Linked DNA regions of Homo sapiens. The protein of the gene in region 1 purifies or fractionates together with the protein of each later gene. This does not show direct contact. Each region holds a gene or a part of one and is shown in the gene's direction. Other genes may lie near its edges.

Evidence for each region.
Region 2: the proteins of STRAP (region 1) and CSDE1 purify together in Homo sapiens (affinity purification with mass spectrometry; 4 studies listed by BioGRID and IntAct, with this or other methods). This does not show direct contact.
Region 3: the proteins of STRAP (region 1) and DDX20 purify together in Homo sapiens (affinity purification with mass spectrometry; 4 studies listed by BioGRID and IntAct, with this or other methods). This does not show direct contact.

The regions. Positions count from the first base shown.
Region 1 is NC_000012.12:15,885,275-15,892,388, forward strand, and holds part of STRAP (serine-threonine kinase receptor-associated protein), read left to right. Parts: intron 1-4,653; coding exon 4,654-4,735; intron 4,736-5,322; coding exon 5,323-5,395; intron 5,396-7,114. UniProt on the Homo sapiens protein: The SMN complex catalyzes the assembly of small nuclear ribonucleoproteins (snRNPs), the building blocks of the spliceosome, and thereby plays an important role in the splicing of cellular pre-mRNAs.
Region 2 is NC_000001.11:114,733,985-114,740,984, reverse strand, and holds part of CSDE1 (cold shock domain-containing protein E1), read left to right. Parts: intron 1-1,094; coding exon 1,095-1,293; intron 1,294-2,912; coding exon 2,913-3,022; intron 3,023-3,421; coding exon 3,422-3,514; intron 3,515-4,129; coding exon 4,130-4,227; intron 4,228-6,461; coding exon 6,462-6,543; intron 6,544-6,867; coding exon 6,868-6,996; intron 6,997-7,000. UniProt on the Homo sapiens protein: RNA-binding protein involved in translationally coupled mRNA turnover.
Region 3 is NC_000001.11:111,752,088-111,758,900, forward strand, and holds the start of DDX20 (probable ATP-dependent RNA helicase DDX20), read left to right. Parts: upstream 1-3,813; 5' UTR 3,814-3,837; coding exon 3,838-4,138; intron 4,139-4,558; coding exon 4,559-4,653; intron 4,654-6,813.

The DNA.
Region 1 (7,114 bases):
ACCTCCCGGGTTCAAGTGATTCTCCCACCTCAGCTTCCTGAGAGGCTGGGACTACAGGTGCACGCCACCACGCCTGGCTAATTTTTGTATATTTAGTAGAGACGGGGTTTCGCCATGTTGGCCAGGCCGGTCTCGAACTCCTGACCTCAAGTGATCTGCCCGCCTTGGCCTCCCAAAGTGCTGGGATTACAGGTGTGAGCCACCGTGCCTGGCCTTTTTTTTTTTTTTTTTTAACAACCTCACACTAAGGAGCAATTGTAAATCTGCTGCCTCCTTCATTTTAAGTACATTAAACATACCAATTTTAGAATGAAAAAATGAAGGCTGATTGACTGTGGTGGCAGATACGTGACTGTATGCTCTTGTTTATTGAAACAGTGTTGTTTTTATGCTTTCTTAACATTTCAAGTCTCAATGTCTGTGTTTACAAGTGGTGTATTAAGAGCATGAAGGCTGGAGCCAGATGACCTGAATTTGAATTGGTGGCCTCATGCACTTTATTTAACCATTTTTTTTTCTGTCATGGTACCTAATTCATAGGTTGGTTTTGAATATTAAATAAGTTAATATGTTTCGAATACTTACAACATTGCCTGAAGTCTATTACACCTATGAAAGTGTTACATATGTAAAGTAACGATGATAGCTACCATGTAAACTATCACCACCCGCACTTGATCAAAATCACATATTATTTTGAAACTAATATGGCTAAAGCCTTCAAACTATTTGGCCTCATATAAGGAAGATTGAATAGATTTAAATGTCAAGAAGGAAGATTTTTGTGATTTTTTTTTCCCCCTCCTCAGTTAAGGCTTTAGGTGCTGTGTTAGAGTGGAAAATAATAACAAGCATTGGCACTAGGTGGGCTTGCATTCGTGTGCTAACTATGCTGTGTATTTCCAGTTTGATCATCATAGGATTTTTTTTTTTTTTTGAAACAGGGTCTTAGGTGCCTAGGCTAGAGTGCAGTGGCGTGATCATAGCTCACTGCAGCCTCTATCTCCCAGTCTCAAGCAGTTCTCCAACCTCAGCCTCCTGAATAGTGACCACAGGCGTGTACTACCATGCTTGGCTAATCTTTGTGTTTTTTGTAGAGATGGGCTTCACCATGTTGTCCAGGTTGGTCTTGAACTCTTGGGCTCAAGCGATCTGCCCACCATGGCAGGATGTTTCTTAAATGTCGGCTTTCATATCTGTAAAATGGGACTAAGACCCATGAGATTATTGGAGGAACAGAGAGATCTTTCTCCACCATATATCCCTGAAGTCCAATATGATCTCTGTCACATAGTAGGTGCTCAATAAATGCTAGTTGAGATTTATCCCTCATTTCCTCTATGTCTTGTCTGTGGGGTGTAGGAGCGTGTTTTCATGTGCGTGTTTGTGTGTGTGTGTATTCTCTCCAAGAAGTTACTCCCCACAGCCTACCTGATTAGTCATGGTTGGTATAAAGCATTTTTAGAAACAATTTTTTTTTCCCTCCATTCTTACGTTTCTTGGAAAACTCATTTATGGTGTGGTCATTTAGAAGTGGAATTTGGTCCCGTTTCTTGTGGAGAAATTTAGCAGAATAGGTCTGTGGACTAGTGTAGAATGTTATCTTGGAGTAATTCGGGCAATTGAGTCCAGTGTTGAGTACAGTGTCCCTAAAACACCATCTCTTTGTATCTATTTGGGAAGAGTGCCAAAGTAAAGACAATTCTGTGCTGTGCTCCCAAGAGGGCTTAAGTAGATCTGGGATTGGGTCCAGGAATTTATAGGTAATCACAATGTATCACTCTTTCTTTCTTGTAAAGCCAATAGAAATATCTAATTTTAGTTTTAATAAGGTTCTTGATAAATCGAAAATGGTATTATCTCCTAGATGACTTGGTCAACATGTTAAGGTATTTGGGCAATTTTTTAAAAATCTTAAACTGGCCTGTTTTGTTGAAGGTTTAAATAAGTAAGTTAAGCAGCTCCTATTATGAGACTTACGGTAAGTTCATTCTGAGGATATGGAAAGTATCAGGCAGCATTATTATTTGCAAGAAACTGGGGTATAAGAGGTAACAGTAGTTTAAGGAGATGACAAGTACTTCGTGGGATGTGAAGAAAATGTTGGAGGGTTAGCTGCTGAAAGGGTATTGTTAATAGCGCTTTACTGTCTTGATTTGAGCCCTGTGGCCAACTAATATATGTCAATTTCTTGCCTGGAGATTGAATAATACATTAGGAAACATTTAGATTAGATCCATTTTAGGGCTCTTACTGTGAATAATGGAAATCTGCCAGAGTTAGTACATGCCCTGTCAGAAAATGTCATGCCTCTATTTTAGTACTGTTTCTAAATAGGAGGAAAAACTACAGACACATTACCTCTCTGGTTAATATTACTACTTTGGTCACTCCAACTCTCTTCTCACCTTTGAATAGACACAGTCTAAGCAGAATCTTAAGATTTTAGAGCTGCCATGTTGGCGTTAGCCTGTAGCTACTTAGGAGGCTGAGGTGGAAGGATCTTGAGGCCAGGAGTTCAAGTATAGCTTGGGCAATATACCAAGATCCTGTCTCAAAAAAAAAAAGAGAGAGAGGTTTTAAGTTTATGGGAGATTATTTAATAAACTTGAAATTAGCATATCAAAGGACATTGCCCGGGTTTCTTTGGAGACTTGTGAATAATTAGAATAGTAATTTTAGATACATTTGTTGTTTTCTTCACTTTTGATGCTTTCTGTCATTCTAATACTTGTGAACCCTTACCACAACCATGAAATGCATTTCACTGTGATTAAGGATATATGTAAACAAAAAACAAAGCAAATTTAAGCACCGTAATAAGTGGAGTTCTGTGGGAGAACAGAAAGGAATGGTTAATTATTGGAGTTGAGGATAAATAGTTTCAAAGAAAAGATAGCATTTGAAATGAGCCCTAAGGGTGAGTAGAACTTTAATAGCTAAGAATGTAAAATACAGACTTAAGAGAATAATATAAACAAGAACATAGGAGCCTGGAAGAAAATACGTAAGTTATTTGAGGAGTGGTTTATAATCTAGTGTTGCTAGATTCAGAGAAACAATACAAAATGAGGTTGGGAAAGTAGATTGGGGCCAGAGAGTTGCATTGGAATGACAGAGAGAGGAGCAAGTTTCCTGGGCAAAGAGAAATGAATACTAGGGAGTTTAGCAGCAAGGCTACTTATAGTTGACATTATTTCTTTCAGAACATATTTATTCAGCCACTCACATGACCCACATTATTAAATATTGCAAGCTTTGGTAGTGTATCATGAGCATTCCTGTTAGATGGTCTTTCATATTCATTAACCACATTGCACATGCTATTAATGCTTATCTAGAATAGCCTTCCCTTCTTTTTCCCCTGATATATTTCTCTTTGCTTCTTCCGACGGCTAGCTCTGTTACTTACATTTTCTGGACAATATCTAGGTGCTTTTTTCTGAGTTTTTATAGCCATATATATGTCTTTTAATTATATTTCTTAAATGTGATATTTAATGCATGTTTTTCTCCTCAGCTAAAGCTCTACTATGGCAAGAACCTACTGTGGGGTATTTTTTGTCTCCCATTTGTGCCTTAGCACTAAGTATAGAATGATATATATTTAATATATTTTATTATGTATTGGGGTAAGCAAAAGAAAAGATACATCTTGCTTTTCTCTGATTTTTTTCCCTCTACCATTTTATTGCCCACTGTGTTCCTGAAAATAAATAGCAGTTGCATTAAAATGGAAATCTCTATGGAACATAGCTTTTTCACTCTTAGCAATTCTTTTCCCTGTCTGCAAAGTTTTCTTGTTTATTTTTCACTGACCTGTTCTGATCTAAAATCAACTTTTTTTTCCCCCTTCCTTAAGCTTTTTTATTTGGGGGAACCCTTTTAGAGTAATTTTGTAAAGTATTGCTCAACTATTACCCGCCCAGAATATACATACACATATAAATGTATGTATACCTATAACCAACTTGTATTTTGGGGTGGGGTGGGACAGAAAAAACAATGTAAAGATTAAAATAGTCAGTGTTAGCATTATATAATCAAAGGCTGATAGTTTGGGGGAAGTTAACTGTACTAGAGTTTGAAATTTTAAGTCAGCTTTGAAGAAGAGATGAAGTGGACATTGTCTCTCCACTATCTTAATTTAAAATTTTACTTAGCCTGTACCAAGGCTTTTCATTCCCTTGTAACATTTTTAAGGATTTCTGGTTTTTTTATTTATTTTTATTTTTTATTGTGCATCTGAGTGGAGAATAGAGAAAAAATTGGCATGGTGAAACTAAAAATTGGTTAAAATGTATGACAGGCTTGCTAAAGGGATATTATGGCTGTCAGCTAAAATAAAAGTAAGGAGGATGGGTTGGTTCATGAATCTTACTTGCTTAAATTGTTCATATCTTTTCCACTGTCAAAGAAAATTAGATTGGTTATAAAGTTTTTACAGAGAAATTTCTTTTCCCTTAAGCTTATTTAAATATTTTATCAAATGAAGTCTGTGAGGGATATTAGAGATAAAGGAGATTTATAATACATTTATGTAACATTTCACATATCTAACTTATTTGGTACTCATCAATATTATAATTGTATTTATCCTTTTAATATATTGGGTAATATTTATCCTACTAATTTTCTCTTTTTTACTTTTAGCAAAGTGTGGGATGCTGTCTCAGGAGATGAATTGATGACCCTGGCTCATAAACACATTGTCAAGACTGTGGATTTCACGCAGGTATCAGAAAATGGAATTTATTTTAGCGAGTTAAGTTGCTGGTACATAGTGTGATAATGCTTTTATACTTGATTGGTGTGTATATTTGATTGATATGTTTTGTGTGGAATATTTGTTATTTCTTGGTTCATATTTGATTTGATTGTGTATTAAGCTCTATGAATTTGTTTCATAGTTAATCCTGTCAAGCTTTTAAGATACTGTGGAACGAGTACCAGTCCTTCAACATGTAAAAAACATCTGAAAAGCTCAAGTAGCCTTCCCCAACTACTAATAGAAGGGAGAAGATAAATTTGAGATAATCAGAAAAGGGCCTCTCACAAGGGAGAGGAGTAGGATCAGGGGAGAATGGGAGAGTTCATGTATATGTAGTGTAGTGTAACGCTTTTGAAGTGGAAAGCTTACAAGTCTTGGCAGTTATGAGAGGTCAGCTGTTCCACAGTATCTTCTCAGAAGTAATTGGTTATGTCTTGGCATCTCTTTGTGATGTCTGTGAGCTAGATTTTGATTTTATTTGGTGTTGAAATTTGAAAGAGAAATAACTATTAAAATGGTTAATCTATTCACATTTTACTTTGTGTTTTCAGGATAGTAATTATTTGTTAACCGGGGGACAGGATAAACTGTTACGCATATATGACTTGAACAAACCTGAAGCAGGTAAGCATAATTTAAACATCAGCTTCTAGTTTTATTTTCTTTTAATTTAAATAACTGATTAAAGAATTTCATGCTCAGTACTCAAATTTGGAAAATAAAGATAGTCATGGCCGGGCACGGTGGCTCATACCTGTAATCCTAGCACTTTGGGAGACTGAGGCGGGTGGATCACTTGAGGTCAGGAGTTCGAGACCAGCCTGGCCAACATGGCAAAACCCCGTCTCTATTAAAAATAGAAAAATTAGCCAGGCATGGTGGCAGGCGCTTGTAATCCCAGCTACTTGGGAGGCTGAGGCAGGAGAATCGCTTGAACCCGGGAGGTGGAGGTTGCAGTGAGCCGAGATTGCGCCACTGCACTCCAGCCTGGGCAATAAGAGTGAAACTCAGTTTCAAAAAAAAAAAAATAGTCAACAAAGAAGAAAATTAAAACGTAATTCATCAGTTTTTGGTTTATAAACTTTCAGTCTTTTTTTCTGCACAGTTTTTAAAAAATAAGTTTATTTGCTATGTTGCTATTGTATAACCTTCTTCCAAACTGAAAATTTATTATGGCAAATTTTTATCATTAAGTTTTAAAACAGTGCAGAACAGTGTTACTATTTTTTGGTAAGAAAGATTGGTTATTTATAGAAGTTGGTGATGGTGAGAATTCTCAGTTGTGTGCACATATTGCTTAGATTTTTGAACCATGTAAATATATTAGCTATTCGAAAGAATTTTAAAAAATCTGCAGTTACAGTTTTTTCATTTCACTAAATAGTCTATGAACTGTTTGTAATGACTTTCTGGTTTTCCATCCTGTGGTTATATCATAAGTGAATTAACTAGTTTCCTGTTTTGGCCCGTTTGGGCTACTTACAGATTTTAAATATGAAAAGCAGTATTATGCTAAACATCCTTACAGTTGCAAATATTTTCACAATGATTTCCTTAAGATAACTAAGCAAAAGTAGAATTGGTGGGACAAAGAGGAGTGGAATTGTTGGAAGGTGGCCGGGCGCAGTGGCTCACGCCTGTAATCCCAGTGCTTTGGGAGGCCAAGGTGAGTGGATCACCTGAGGTCAGGAGTTCAATACCAGCCTGGCCAACATGGTGAAACCCCATCTCTACTAAAAGTACAAAAAAATTAGCTGGGCATGGTGGCAGGCGCCTGTAATTCCCAGGTACTCAGGAGGGTGAGGCAGGAGAATCGCTTGAACCCGGGAGGTAGAGGTTGCAGTGAGCCGAGATTGCATACCAGCCTGGGGGACAAGAGCAAAACTCCTTCTCAAAAAGAAAAAAAAAAAATGAATTGTTGGAAGCCATTGATAGATACTACCAAAGTGTCTTCCAACAAAGTATGGGTATATATGTATGTATCTATACCCAACATGTTCTAGTGAGCACTGATAACTAACTTTCTCTTTGTCAATTTAAGAAAATAATTCTGTTGTATTAATGTGAATATTCATGAGATTAAAATGCTATTGAATACCATTTTAATATATTCCCTTTTTTATGGAATAATTGCCTGTCTACCTTTTGTCCATTTATCTGTTGTGTTATTCATGTTTTTCTTACTGGTTTTTAAAGGTTCTTTATTGAATTCTAATTTATCATTTGCTTTTAAATTTTGTTAAGGTGGTTTTATGGTATATATGTTTTTAACATTTTGGTGGTGAAATTCTTTATGCATTCTCTCATTTTACAGAAGTTATAGGTGTCTTCCCCAGTCTACAT
Region 2 (7,000 bases), on another chromosome or scaffold:
TCGTTGACTCAAACTTTGGTTTATCTTTCTAGAATTTGTTACTCTTTTTTCCTAGTGAAAATATATCCTTTTTATTAATAATGCCCAACATTCCACTTAAATGGAAATACTTATAAATCAGATTTTCAGTGAAAGGGTCTAAAACATAATTGTAATGATTTAGAAATGTCATTACTGTGGTAAATTATAGACCTAGGCTTTGCTAAGGATTTCGTCCTGTTTTGTGCTTCACTTATAGTTTTTGTTGTTTTACTCAAAGAAGGGAAATGGAACATCCAATGTGATAGTATTTTATGACCTAGGCAGATTCCATTATATTGCTTTTAAATAGCTCCTATTTCACTAAAGAATGGGAACGAAGTGATAGTTACAGATTTCATCAGTATGTAAAAAGTGAAGGGTTTCTTTTAGGTAAAGATTTCTTTAAATGTACCTGTGAAATGATTCAGCATTTTTAAAATGGAAATGCTTTTGCTGTCTTGGAGTTTTGTTGTTTCAGAAGTTTTCTACTGCACTATTTTGGATAGTCTTTCATTAAAGGACCTAAGCATGAATTACTCTGAAATTTTCTAGTTTAAGTATTGCATAGAAAGTTCATTTTATTGTGTTAATCTCTACTAACTTGAAATATGCCTTCCAAATGCATGACTTACTAAACAGTATTAAGGTATTGGCTGAAGTTTCAAAATAGCGTTACCAAATCTCTTAAGAGTCTTTGGTAGTTTGTGGTCGCTGTCTCTTAATATTAATTACCTTTGTTCTGAAATTGTTGTTTTAGTAATTTTCACTTCATGTAAAGGCAGCATTTGCTAATGTAGTTGCTATACCTTAATATTAAACCCCAGAAATTCTATTTTTGTCTGATAAGTGGAAATTCTACCATAATTTGGGGCAATTCCCCAATATAATAAGTTGTTTCCTCTGAAATGTTTTATTAGCTAAATTAATGCTGCAGTAATAAAGTCTATAATCTTCCCTTCATTTTACTTTTTTTTGCGTTTTTATATGGAAGATTTAGTGACTTATTAACCAGACTTAATATGCTATGGAGATAATGTACAGATATGTATATATTCTTTTTCTTTTTAAAACAGATGAGCTTTGATCCAAACCTTCTCCACAACAATGGACATAATGGGTACCCTAATGGTACTTCAGCAGCACTGCGTGAAACTGGGGTTATTGAAAAACTGTTAACCTCTTACGGATTTATTCAGTGTTCAGAACGTCAAGCTAGACTTTTCTTCCACTGTTCACAGTATAATGGCAACCTGCAAGACTTAAAAGTAGGAGGTAATCTGTCAGTTCTCCTTTGTAAAAATGTAATCACAAAATTTGTCTTGCATATCAATTTGTTCATGAGTGTTTTTCAAAAAGTTTTATGTAAATTAAAACATTTTGGACTTTTAGTTGTACTGTTTAGTGAAGAATATCTGTATAAACCAGCAGAATCCTTGAAAGATTATATTTGCATATATTTACAATAAATGCTTGGAAGATTTCATTGTTTTTCCCCATAATGATGACTGTTTACCCGTAAGATTTTAAGCCAGTACGAATATTGAACTTTTGTAATGTTACTTATGATTATTCTGTCAGGTACTATTTTGGGTAGTACCTGAAAAAAGTAATCCTTAGAGTGTCACCTCTTAGAAGCTGGGCGCGGTGGCTTACGCCTGTAATCCCAGCACTTTGGGAGGCCGAGGCGGGCAGATCACGAGGTCAGGAGATAGAGACCATCCTGGCTAACACGGTGAAACCCCGTCTCTACTAAAAATACAAAAAATTAGCTGGGCGTGGTGGCAGGCACCTGTAGTCCCAGCTACTCGGGAGGCTGAAGCAGGAGAATGGTGTGAACCTGGGAGGCGGAGCTTGCAGTAAGCCAAGATGCCACCACTGCACTCCAGCCTGGGCGACAGAGCGAGACCCCGTCTCAAAAAAAAAAAAAGTCACCTCTTAGATTATATGGAAATTCATTGTGGCTGACACCATACAAATTATTTCACAGGCCTGGCATGGTGGCTCATGCCTGTATTCCCAGCATTTTGGGAGGCCAGGGCAAGTGGATTGCTTGAGCTCAGGAATTCAAGACCAGCTTGCAGCCTGGGCAACATGGCAAAACCCCATCTCTACAAAAAATGCAAAAATTAGCTGAGGAACGTGACATGTGCCTGTAGTCCCAGCTACTAAGTAGACTGAGGTGGGAGGATCGCTTGAGCCCGCAAGGTAGAGGTTGCAGTGAGCTGAGATCGTGCCGCTGCACTCCAGCTTGGGTGACAGGGAGACTCTGTCTCAAAAAAAAAAAAAAAAAAAAAAAAAAAAAGTTTTTACATGTGAAGTGTTTGGCTTACTAAAGGACTGAAATTATGAGGCCTCTGTGCATTTTTAAAAAACGTTTGAGAAAAGAGTCAGTATAATAGCTAACAAGATGCATGCTATAGGAACATTGTTTTGGTTAATCCTCATGGCAGTCCTGTTAGGAATTATTCTCCTTTTACATAAGAGAAAACTGAGGTACAGAGGAGTTTAAAAAAAAAACTCGCCAAAGGTTATGATTGTTAAGTCATCTCATTTGTAGTATGTGTAAATGCCATAAAAACTAAGATTAAGACATGGCTATCTTAGCATAAGATGGTGGTTCTGAAACATTTGTGTGTATCAGAATTAGTGGAAGGCTTGTTAAAACACAGATTGCTATACTTGATCCCCAGAGTTTGTCTTTGGCTAGGACTAGAGTTAGGCCCAGTATTTCTTTTAAGCTCCCAGGTGATGTTAATGCTGCTGGTCCAGGGACCACACTTTGAAAACCACTGGTCTAAGGCAATTCAAATGCTATGTTAAGTATAGCTTGGAAGCAATATATCGTTTCGCAAAAATCAGTTCAACAAACATAACACATTATTTATTTTTAGATGATGTTGAATTTGAAGTATCATCGGACCGACGGACTGGGAAACCCATTGCTGTTAAACTGGTGAAGATAAAACAAGAAATCCTCCCTGAAGAACGAATGAATGGACAAGTTAGTGACTTTGATGCTTTGTGTTTTTTTAGGGCCCTGCATTTGCATATCTTTCACATTAGAAAAGGAAGATTCTCCCCATCTCCTCAGTTTGCACGAAAGAGAGCTATAGTATATAAAGATTACTATTTTAAAATTAATCAAAAGCACTGGCATTTCTTGACCTGAAATAAAAATATGGTCAAGACTCAATTGGGTTTTTACATATAACCCTGAGTCAATGCTTACAGTCAATTTACATACTGTAAGTTTGAAACTTGGCAGCATGACATCCTCTTGTGGATCATATTAAAATGCATCCCTGTATATAGTATAGAGGATATTAAAATTCAGTTTATATTGCACAGTGCTGCTCCTGAAATGATTAGCAATGGAAATTTTTTTTTTTTTGACTGGTAGGTTGTGTGCGCTGTTCCTCACAACTTAGAGAGTAAATCTCCAGCTGCCCCGGGTCAGAGTCCAACAGGGAGTGTATGCTACGAACGTAATGGGGTAAACTTGTGTATTTTTCTTAAACCTTTGCCTGATCCACCATGTGATCTATAAGCGTACTTTAAAATTCAAAATAGAAAACGTAAGCTGCAATTGTTAAAATCAGTTTTAAATTTGGTTTCTAAGAGGCTTCAAATGCAGCATAATCAAAAAATTTAAAAAGAAAAATTCCATAGGACTTCCAAGTGTCTTAGTTTGCCCAAGTATGACCTTAGTTAGAACATTAAGGTAAAATGTTCCTTTTAATCACTTTTTTGGGGGTTGTGGGGGGGATCTTTTTCTGGTTTCTTTTAAGCACTAACACCAGCTTTTTTTGTTTGGAATGCCTTATATAAAATTGTTTTTTTGAAATGTAACTATAGTCTCTGGGCAAATGCTTCCACGTGTGTAAGCTTTTTGAAGTTGGATTGCTGCTCAGCTGTGGACTCGCAGAAGTCATCAGCACCATGGAGGGGAAGTGTGTGTTTATATGAATAAAGTGACTTGTCATAAAGCATTTAATTTTAAGAAATTTGGCTTAAAATGCCAGTATAAGAGGTTTTTAAGTAAGTAAATCACAGTATACAGTGAATATGCATCCTGCCAAAATAGTAATAATGATTTATTAATTCACAGGAAGTGTTTTATCTGACTTACACCCCTGAAGATGTCGAAGGGAACGTTCAGCTGGAAACTGGAGATAAAATAAACTTTGTAATTGATAACAATAAACAGTAAGTTCTTTTTTTTTAAATTTTCTCACCTAAGCGGTTTTTTTTTCCCCCCTCCATTAAGAAATTTGAATAGAGTTAAAAACCTAACTTGTAAGTCTGGATAGTTTTCATGAACTTTCAATTCATCAACTAATGCTTTGAGGTCTATGAATATTGTATTACAGCCATGATGCAGGGTCTCAGAGGAAGATGATAATTAAAACATTGTTAGGCATTTTAAGGACTTGTTCTAGAGATCAGTGAAGGTTTTTCAAAAAATAGTGCTTTGAGGTAAGTTTTGAGGGAGGGGTATAGTCACTATAGAGAGGTGAGAAAAAAGCATTATGATTAGAAGTATCATGACATGTTGGGGGAAAATGGCCAAAAGTTTGGTCGAACTGACCAGAAGGTAAAGTTTGAGCATTCTTCTATGTAGGAATCTGCGTTGTTTAAAACAAGGAAGTGTGATTGGTTTAGATCTTTGGAGGTGGTGGAAGTGGTAGACTTTTGAAAGGTGGGGATGCTGTTGACCAGAGGCAGTGATGTGAGAGTTAACGTGAAAGATGACCGCCTGATATGGATAGACTAAGAGGATGGGGTGGAGGAGTCAAGTCATATTGAGAAGATAGAATCATCAATCTTAATTGATTTGATAAAGGTGGGGTTGGAATTAAAGGGAGTCCCAAATACTGTTTTTCTGGCCTGGCCTACTGGGCAGATGATGGTACCATAAACTGGGCTAAGGAGACATAAGGAGAATGTTCAAGGTGGGAAAAGAATCATACTTATCTTGGCAATTTTTGAGTGTGAGATGTTTGTGATATATCTGGGTAGAGATATCAAATCTACAGTTGCGTGTATAGGTCTGAGACTTAGACCTATTAAGTCTAAGGTCTATTTCCTGCCTATAGGGGAAGTATATAGAGCTGTAGAATTCATCAGCATACACAGTTAAGGAAAATGTAGTTAAGAAAGCCCAGGGAGAATATTATTTTTATCTTGGCATAGGAGAGATGAGAGATGCAAGAGGAGAAGGAAATTAAAATAGAAAGTTGGAGAAAGTGCTAGTAATGTACCTTCCAGTAGCATGTGGAGGGAAAAGTCCTAAGAGCATGTCTGGGATTATCTGCCTTGAACCTTATCTCTTTCTTGGCAAGCCTTGAAGGAATCAGATTGTGTTGTAGGTGTGGTTATTATTAGTTACAGTCTGAAGGCCTCAATTTATATAGTTGTTAATCTCAGAACAGCCTTACCTGGTAAGTTTCTTCATCTGTAAAATGACGTATAAGTTCTCACAAAGTTACTTGTCGATGTTCATACTGCTTTTAAATAGCAGGCATTTAAATTCCCATCTGACTCTAAAGCGTTTTCACTGCAGTAAGTTACAAAAACAGGTAGAATTTTTCTGGTGTCTTTGTTAGTCTGTAACATTTTTTTAAATAAAAAGCACATTTTGGGTTATTTGTCTGTGAAAAATTAAGGGAAGTAATTGCTTGGTGTATAGGTCTTTTCTTAAAACATTTAGACTAACAGTACCATTATGTCTTATACAGTCTATGTTATCTTAAAAACAAAATTGAATTTACATCGCTGCTACACAAATATGAAGGCATAAAAGCAACATGTGGTGTCTCTAACTTGTTTCCATTCTCCAATGGAGGTGGATATCATTACTTTTAAAAGCATAGCAAGTTCTCTTAAAGTCACTTCATTTACTCAACTTTTATGGCTGTTTACTCAGAAATAATTAATGAGATAGCTACTAAATTTAGCACTCACTGAAAATAGAGACCATCTCCTATTTATCTCTGTATCACCAGTACCTTACTTTGCCGCAGATTATACCTACACAAATGTTTGTTTAATGAATAACCTTTATAAGACTTTAGTATTCCCCACCTTTGGTAGCATTCGCTTTGTGGCTTTATTTCAGTTATTTTGTTGAAATAGAAAAACAGAGTAGAACATCACGCACCCATGTGTAAGTTTGTAAAAAAGCAAATCTTCCAACAACAGTCCCAGAGAAAGATGACCTATATATATATTTGCCAAACGTAGAAGGCTAAGGAGTTAAAGTCCTTTGCATATAAAGCCATATGAAAATAATCAAATGTCATAAACCCTGTATTTATTCTTAGTGATGATAGAATTCTTAAAGCCCCAGGAAACTAGTTTCTTTAGACTCATATCTAAGCAGGCCAATACATTTTTAATCCCTGTTTCATTCCTCCTCCCTGCAATTATTTTTTTTCTAGTACTGGTGCTGTAAGTGCTCGCAACATTATGCTGTTGAAAAAGAAACAAGCCCGCTGTCAGGGAGTAGTTTGTGCCATGAAGGTAAGTGTTAAATTTGAGAAACTTGAGTTTTCTTTGGCCACTTGAAATGTTGTACTTCAAACTCCAGCCTTTGTTTTTTTTTTTCTTTTTTATCTTACCCTTTTAAAATATTTCACTGTTAACCTCAAAAGTAGTCTCTTAAAATTCCTTGGTTGCTAATACATTATCTTCTTTAAAATTGGCTGTTTAATTGATAATATTAGGTTGTACCAAATTATATTATTGTGACTACAGTATAATTTTACAAAAATTACTGGTTTTAAGTTGTAATCATAAATTTGTACAGAGTGGTAATAATGTTCTTGGTTTTTTATTTTGCTTCAGGAGGCATTTGGCTTTATTGAAAGAGGTGATGTTGTAAAAGAGATATTCTTTCACTATAGTGAATTTAAGGGTGACTTAGAAACCTTACAGCCTGGCGATGATGTGGAATTCACAATCAAGGACAGAAATGTAA
Region 3 (6,813 bases), on another chromosome or scaffold:
CTTCCTCCTTCCTGCTGGCTGCAATGCAAACGTGATGACTGGAACTACAGCAACTGTTTGGGGACCAAGGCAGAAGCCTGGGTGATTGGGATCTTTGTGGATCAGGGCTGTTTATCAGTCCTGCTTCCAGAATTCTCTACAAGGGCAAAATGAACTTCTATCTTGGGGAGGTAAGCTCCTATTTTGGGGCCTTACTTTCAATCAAACCTAATCTTGATGGCTAAGTCTTTCTTGGCTCCCCACATCTGGTTACCTCCTTGACTTCAGTAGCACCCTGCACTTTATACAGGAAATGAGGATACCTGTTTGTGTGCATCTGTCTCCCCAAGTGCAGAGGCTCTGTTTACTTTGTTCCATTTTTGTATCTCTAGCACTTGGCTGGTTTATACTAGGTGTTCAGAAAATTTTTGTTGAATGATTAGAGATGTTTTGTAGATTGAATGCAAATAATAATATTGCCTACCTTGTGTTGCTTTGAGGGTCAAATGAGAAAAAGTGGCTTTAAAATCTTAAGTTTTCTTCCCTTCTTTCCACATTCCCCCACCGATCCTCACACCCAGGGTGGGCCACCTTACAGTATGCCTTCCTTTATACTGTTTTCTTTTTCTTTTTTTTTTTTCTTTTGAGACGGAGTCTCGCTCTGTTGCCCAGGCTAGAGTGCAGTGGTGTGATCTCGGCTCACTGCAAGCTCTGCTTCCCGGGTTCACGCCATTCTCCTACCTCAGCCTACCGAGTAGCTGGGACTACAGGTGCCCACCACCACGCCCGGCTAACTTTTTGTATTTTTTTTCTAGTAGAGACAGGGTTTCACCATGTTAGCCAGGATGGTCTTGATCTCCTGACCTTGTGATCCGCCCACCTCGGCCTCCCAAAGTGCTGGGATCACAGGCGTGAGCCACCGCGCCTGGCCTGTTTTCTTTTCCTCTGGGTTCAGAAGCCTCCAGTGCAAAATGATTGGATGAGATCATTTGAATCTTAACACCCATTCTGAGTCTAAGTGTCACTCTCACCTTTTCAGTTCATAGGAATCTCTCCCTCCTCTAGCTCCCTGGAAAGGCTCTCCAGGTAGATGGAACAGCAAATACAAAGGTATTGAGGTGTTACAAGTCATGGAGAATTAAGCATCTGGGCTAGTTGGGTCTGGTTGGAGGAGGTAGATGGGCTGCTCTGCCAGAGAAGAGACAGGGATCCCACTGTTATTTATCCCGGGGGAGGCTGGGAGACAGACACAATCAAGCCCATTTCTGTATGTGTTATGCTCACACCTTACCTAGTTATTAAATGATTTCTTGCTTTTGTGCAAGAGATCTTTATAGCACTAAAAATTATGGTCAACAACACTGTTATAACTTTTGACTAGTGAGAAAAAAAATTTGTGTTATTCACCATGGTTCCCAATAACATTACTGCAATATTTGTGTCTGTAAAACATCAAAAACAACAAATGCAGTAACAGAATGCCTATAAAACTATAAATGTTTTCTGGAAATGTAGTCTTTTTGCTTTTCTTGGGATAATCCTGTGGTTCTTCAGCAGTGATTGGTGTGAGTTCTACAGAACCGCTGCTATGTGCATGGAGACCCAGAAGAGATTTTTGAGCAAGAAGGTGTCAGCCATTCAATGTTTATTGGGTCTACCAGGTGCTTGGTGCTGGCCTGGAGGGCCTAGGATGACAAAATTACTGTCCTTGAGAAGCTCACAGTTTATTTAATGTGAGGCACATACAAGTAACCAAGCAAATACAACATAAGAGCCAGACTGGAATTATTTATAGTGTGATGTGGGACCCTGGGGTGGGGAATAAAAAAGGGTATCAAAAGGAGCAGGATCAAAAGGAGCAGGATCTGGAGCTGGACCCAAACAGCTTAAGATATCCACTTAAGAAAGATCACTCCAGCACCTGTGGGGTACATGGCTGGGATAGAGAAGAAACTCTGGCCAGAGAAACCATTCAGGAGGTTTTTGCGAGTTAGGATGATAAAGGGATCTAAAATATAGGGCAGATTCTACGGAGACTGAAGAAGAATGGGTGAAATATTTGGAGGCAAAATTACTTGTGCTTGGTAAATTGTTAGAAAGTGGCAAAGGAGTCAAGAATAATTCCCAGGTTTGTGGTCTGGGGATTAGGCAGATAAAAGAGGTGAGGGCACTAAGAGGAAGGCTGGGACCTTTAGTGCCATCTCCACCATCAGTCTCCATTCCTTCAAACGGATAGTTGACATTTTCTCAATGTTTTGTACATTTCCAGGCAAAATAAACCTTCAGGACCACCTTCCAATGGGATTACCATGTCAAAGCCCCTCCTATATCATATGGAATCTAGACCATCACTGTGTGTGTGTCAAGGGGGTAGGGACAATGACCAGCATTATAATCTATGGACAAAGTTGGGCTTGGTTGCAGAATATATTTAAGTTTGGTATTCTTTGTATTTTTAAAAATTTGTTTACTTTTTAAGAATTTGAGACAGGGTTTCTGCATGTTGCCCAGGCTGGCAACTCCTGGCCTCAAGCAATCCTCCCGCCTCAGCCTCCCAAGAAGCTGGAATCACAGGTGCGAGCCACCCCACACAACTAAATTTGGAATTATGAATATGGCTGAGGTCCAGAAATATTTAAATTTGGCATGATGACTAAGAGTTTGTTATAGGAGCTCAATCATTTGATAAATATTGAACATTTCCTATGTGTCAGATTGTTTTTCCCACTAGGGATGCAGAGGAGAACAAGACAGAATAGGTTCTTGTCCTCATAGAGTGTGGGAGACAGGCAGAAGACATATAATTTCAGGTAGGTATAAGTATCATAAAGAAAAAATAAAGCAAAACAAGAGAGTGCTGGGAAAGGCCAGGGAGCAGAGAGGATGACAGAGCTGTCTTAGGGTGTTCAAGACCTCTTTGAAAAGCTGATATTTGAGCAGAAGACCACAGCAAGGAAAAGTGGCAGAGACTGCTAGCTGCCTACGCATGAAATGATGGGGGAAGGAGCAATACAGAAGGCATGTAACATTTGAGAGTCTATTAGGCATCCCAAGGGAGGTGCTGCGGAGGCGGATGCATGGAGGCGGATGCGGAGGCGGATGCATGGAGGCGGATGCATGGAGGCAGATGGATGCACACGTCTAGAGTTTAAAAGGAGATCTGAGGCGGAGATACGAACTTGGGAGCTGTTAGTCCAGTTCCAGGTTCCAATTCAACGTACTTTTATCAGAGCTCACTGTGCGCCAGGGACTTGCTAGGAGATAAATGGGGTTTATCTCACCGGAGATAAATGTGGTTGCACAGCAGATGGACACACCAGCCAATGTGGTAAATAAACCCTTGGGTCCAGCTACGTTCTGCGCGCTCTCTGCCAGCACAGAGGAGCAGCGAGTCAGGGTACGGAGCGGGTAGCGTTGGGGAAGAGGTGGCCGCGAAGCGAGACAGGCCAGCGGAACGGAAAACGGAAGCACGAGACGGGGGCGTGACGCACCGGGCGCATCACAAAGAACGGCGAGAGGGCGGTGGCGCCGGGGGCACGGCTGGGCGGCTCCGCCCAGAAGAGGGCCGAGAGGCGGGGCGGTGCCCCCACCGCAGGCCCGCGGCGCCCTCTGCAGGCCACAGGCAGCGACTCACCAGTTGCCTCATCTTTCCTCTCCTCCCTCTTGGGGCTTTCCTCAGGCCACATTTTTTGTGTGTCTGGGCAGTCTCTCAGCCTCCGACTCCCGTCCCTTTCTTCCACTTCCAGGCCGGGCGTGTTAGTGTCTTCGCGGGAAAACTGCCAATAAAGTTTTTCTTCTTCTCGCTCCCAAGATCCCCGCCTCCCCTTAAGCACCGCGAGATCTGACGGCGCGGCTACCATGGCGGCGGCATTTGAAGCCTCGGGAGCCTTAGCAGCAGTGGCGACTGCTATGCCGGCTGAGCATGTGGCCGTGCAGGTCCCGGCCCCAGAGCCAACACCCGGGCCTGTGAGGATCCTGCGGACCGCTCAGGATCTCAGCAGCCCGCGGACCCGCACGGGGGATGTGCTGTTGGCGGAGCCGGCCGACTTCGAGTCACTGCTGCTTTCGCGGCCGGTGCTGGAGGGGCTGCGGGCGGCCGGCTTCGAGAGGCCCTCGCCGGTGCAGCTCAAGGCCATCCCGTTGGGGCGCTGCGGGCTCGGTGAGAGCGGGGGCCCGGGATAGGTCGGGGGGTGGGGTGGGAGAAGGGGGACCGACGGGCGGCGGCGGCCAGGCCCGCGCCGCAGCTCAGGAAGAGCCCTCGGTCGGCCCCCGGAGCAGGGCCCTGCCGGGGGCTAGGCGCTACGCTCAGTTAACTTATTTGTAAAACTAACGTGCACTATTGAACTTGAGGATAGTTAAGACCTTTTTTTAAGCACTGACAAATGGTTCTAAGTTTGAGAAGATAAACGGTAAACGTTCAGGGACTAGGCGTGTTCTCATACGTTTTTGAGAATCAACTAAAAATGAAGGTGCCAACTAGGGGAATCTCAGGAGACCCTTCTAGTTCTCTGATTCCATGTTAGCCCCTAAGTTGCTTCAGTGAGTACTGGCTAGTGATAATTGTTTTTTTCCTTCGCAGATTTAATTGTTCAAGCTAAATCTGGCACCGGGAAAACCTGTGTGTTCTCCACCATAGCTTTGGACTCTCTTGTTCTTGAAAACTTAAGTACCCAGGTGAGTTAGCTGAGAGGACCAGAGGAGGATGTGTTTTGTGGACTTTACCACAGGTCAGATGAAATACCAGTAGCTCCTCAGAGCTGGAAGTGAATTTGATGAATGATTGAGTTAAGTGGTGGTGGTGGCGAAATTTGGAATTTTCTATGCGTACCTTATTTAAATAGAATAAAGCTACCATATATGTCAATTTTGTCACTACTTGGTAATACAGACAGGGATTCTTCTTTTACTTACTGACTAGATTAATGTGAGACTTAACATTTGACTTGATTCATGGTAATGTAGTGCTCTGGCTATTGTTGGTAACTGCAGAGTTTGTTTTTTTTTTTTGAGACGGTGTCGCTTTGTCACCTAGGCTGGAGTGCAGTGGCGGATCATTGCTCACTGCAACCTTGAACTTCTGGGCTCCAGTGATCCTCCCACCCATCTTCCTAAGTATTTGGGACTACAGGTGTGTGCCACCACACCTGGCTAGTTCTTGTATTTTTTGTAGAGATGGGGTCTCCAGTGTTGCACAGACCAGCCTTGAACTCCTGGGTTCAAGCAATCCTCCCACCTTTGCCTCCCAAAGTACTGGGATTACAGGCATGAGCCACCACAGCCGGTATGCAGGTGGTTCTTAAAGCTCTGTAAATGTATCATATTGATCTCCCATCTTCCAGGTTGTCTTAGAGTGTTTCTAAGATTGCCTTACCCAAATTAGCAGGAAATTTGAGTTTGGGGATCATTTCTCCAACAAAGGTTTGTTGAGTCCGTATTACGTATAAACAGTGTGCCAGGCATTGGGGATTCAAAGATGAATTAGATGTGATTCTCATAGCCTTACTTGGTAGTTTAGTTGTTATGGCAGACTGTATTTCAAGTTCTCAGGCATTGGTATATCTGATGATGAATCTTCAACAGTGGTTTTTAACCCAGATATCCATGTTCATCACCTGGGAAGCTTTTTGAGTCCATCTTATGTCTACCAAATCCTAGGTGATGTTGCACATTGGAAATCCTCCTACTTCCCAAGAACCTGAGTTAGTCTAATTGTAGACTAAGATGTATTTGAGATTTTGGCTTCTGACAATTTGGCAGCAGATAAAATGCTGAAATCCTGGAAAAGTTTCATCAACTCATTTTTTTTTGAGACCGAGTCTCACTCTGTTGCCCAGGCTGGAGTCAGTGGCACAATCTTGGCTCACTGCAACCTCTGCCTCCCAGGTTCAAGTGATTCTCCTGCCTCAGCCTCCCGAGTAGCTGGGATTACAAGTGTGCACACCACACGCCCGGCTAATTTTTTTGTATTTTTAGTAGAGACGGTGTTTCGCCATGTCGGCCAGGCTGGTCTCAAACTCCTGACCTCAGGTAATCCACCTGCCTCAGCCTCCCAACATGCTGGGATCACAAGTGTGAGCCACCATGCCCGGCAAATTCATATTTTTAATTTCAGATCTTTGGATTATGAAAATTACATTATTCTCTGTGTGTGTATCAAAGTAATACATATTCATTTTTAGAAATAGGGAAAATTCAGAAAAATTAGGACGTACCAGAAAACAAAATCTGTAATCTTACTACCTAGAGAGAAACTGCTATTAACAGTTTTGGCATGTTTTCTCCTAGTCCTTTTTTTTTTTTTTTTTTTAAATCAATTTTTTTTTCTTGTAGTTAAGAGCACAAAGTTTTGTTTTCTCCTCCTCCAGTAGTTACATTGCAAAGTTTTTACCATGACTCTCAAGGTCTTTTGTGATCTAGTCCCTGGAGGTAGATCTCTGACCTCCTTTACTTTCCCCTGAATTCTGTCATGTGGGCCTTCTTTTTCTTCCTCAAATACACCAAGAACACTGCCATCTTATGGCCTTTCCATTTGCTGTTTCCTCTTGGTGAAAACGCTTCCCCAGGGGTCATATAGCCAGCTCTACTCTATGCCATTCACGTAGGTCTCTGCTCAAAGTACCTCCTTTGAGGAGGTTTCATGATCACCTCATTTAAAATGACTCCTTTTTTCCTTGTTTGATTTTTTTATGATACTTTTTATTACCTGTCATTACTTATTTTTGTTTACTGTATATATTCTTATCCAAGAATGAAAGTACCATGAGGGCAAAGACTTTGTACTGTTAACTGTTGATTCCCCGGCAACTAGTATGTTGCCTAGCACAGAGTAGGTTC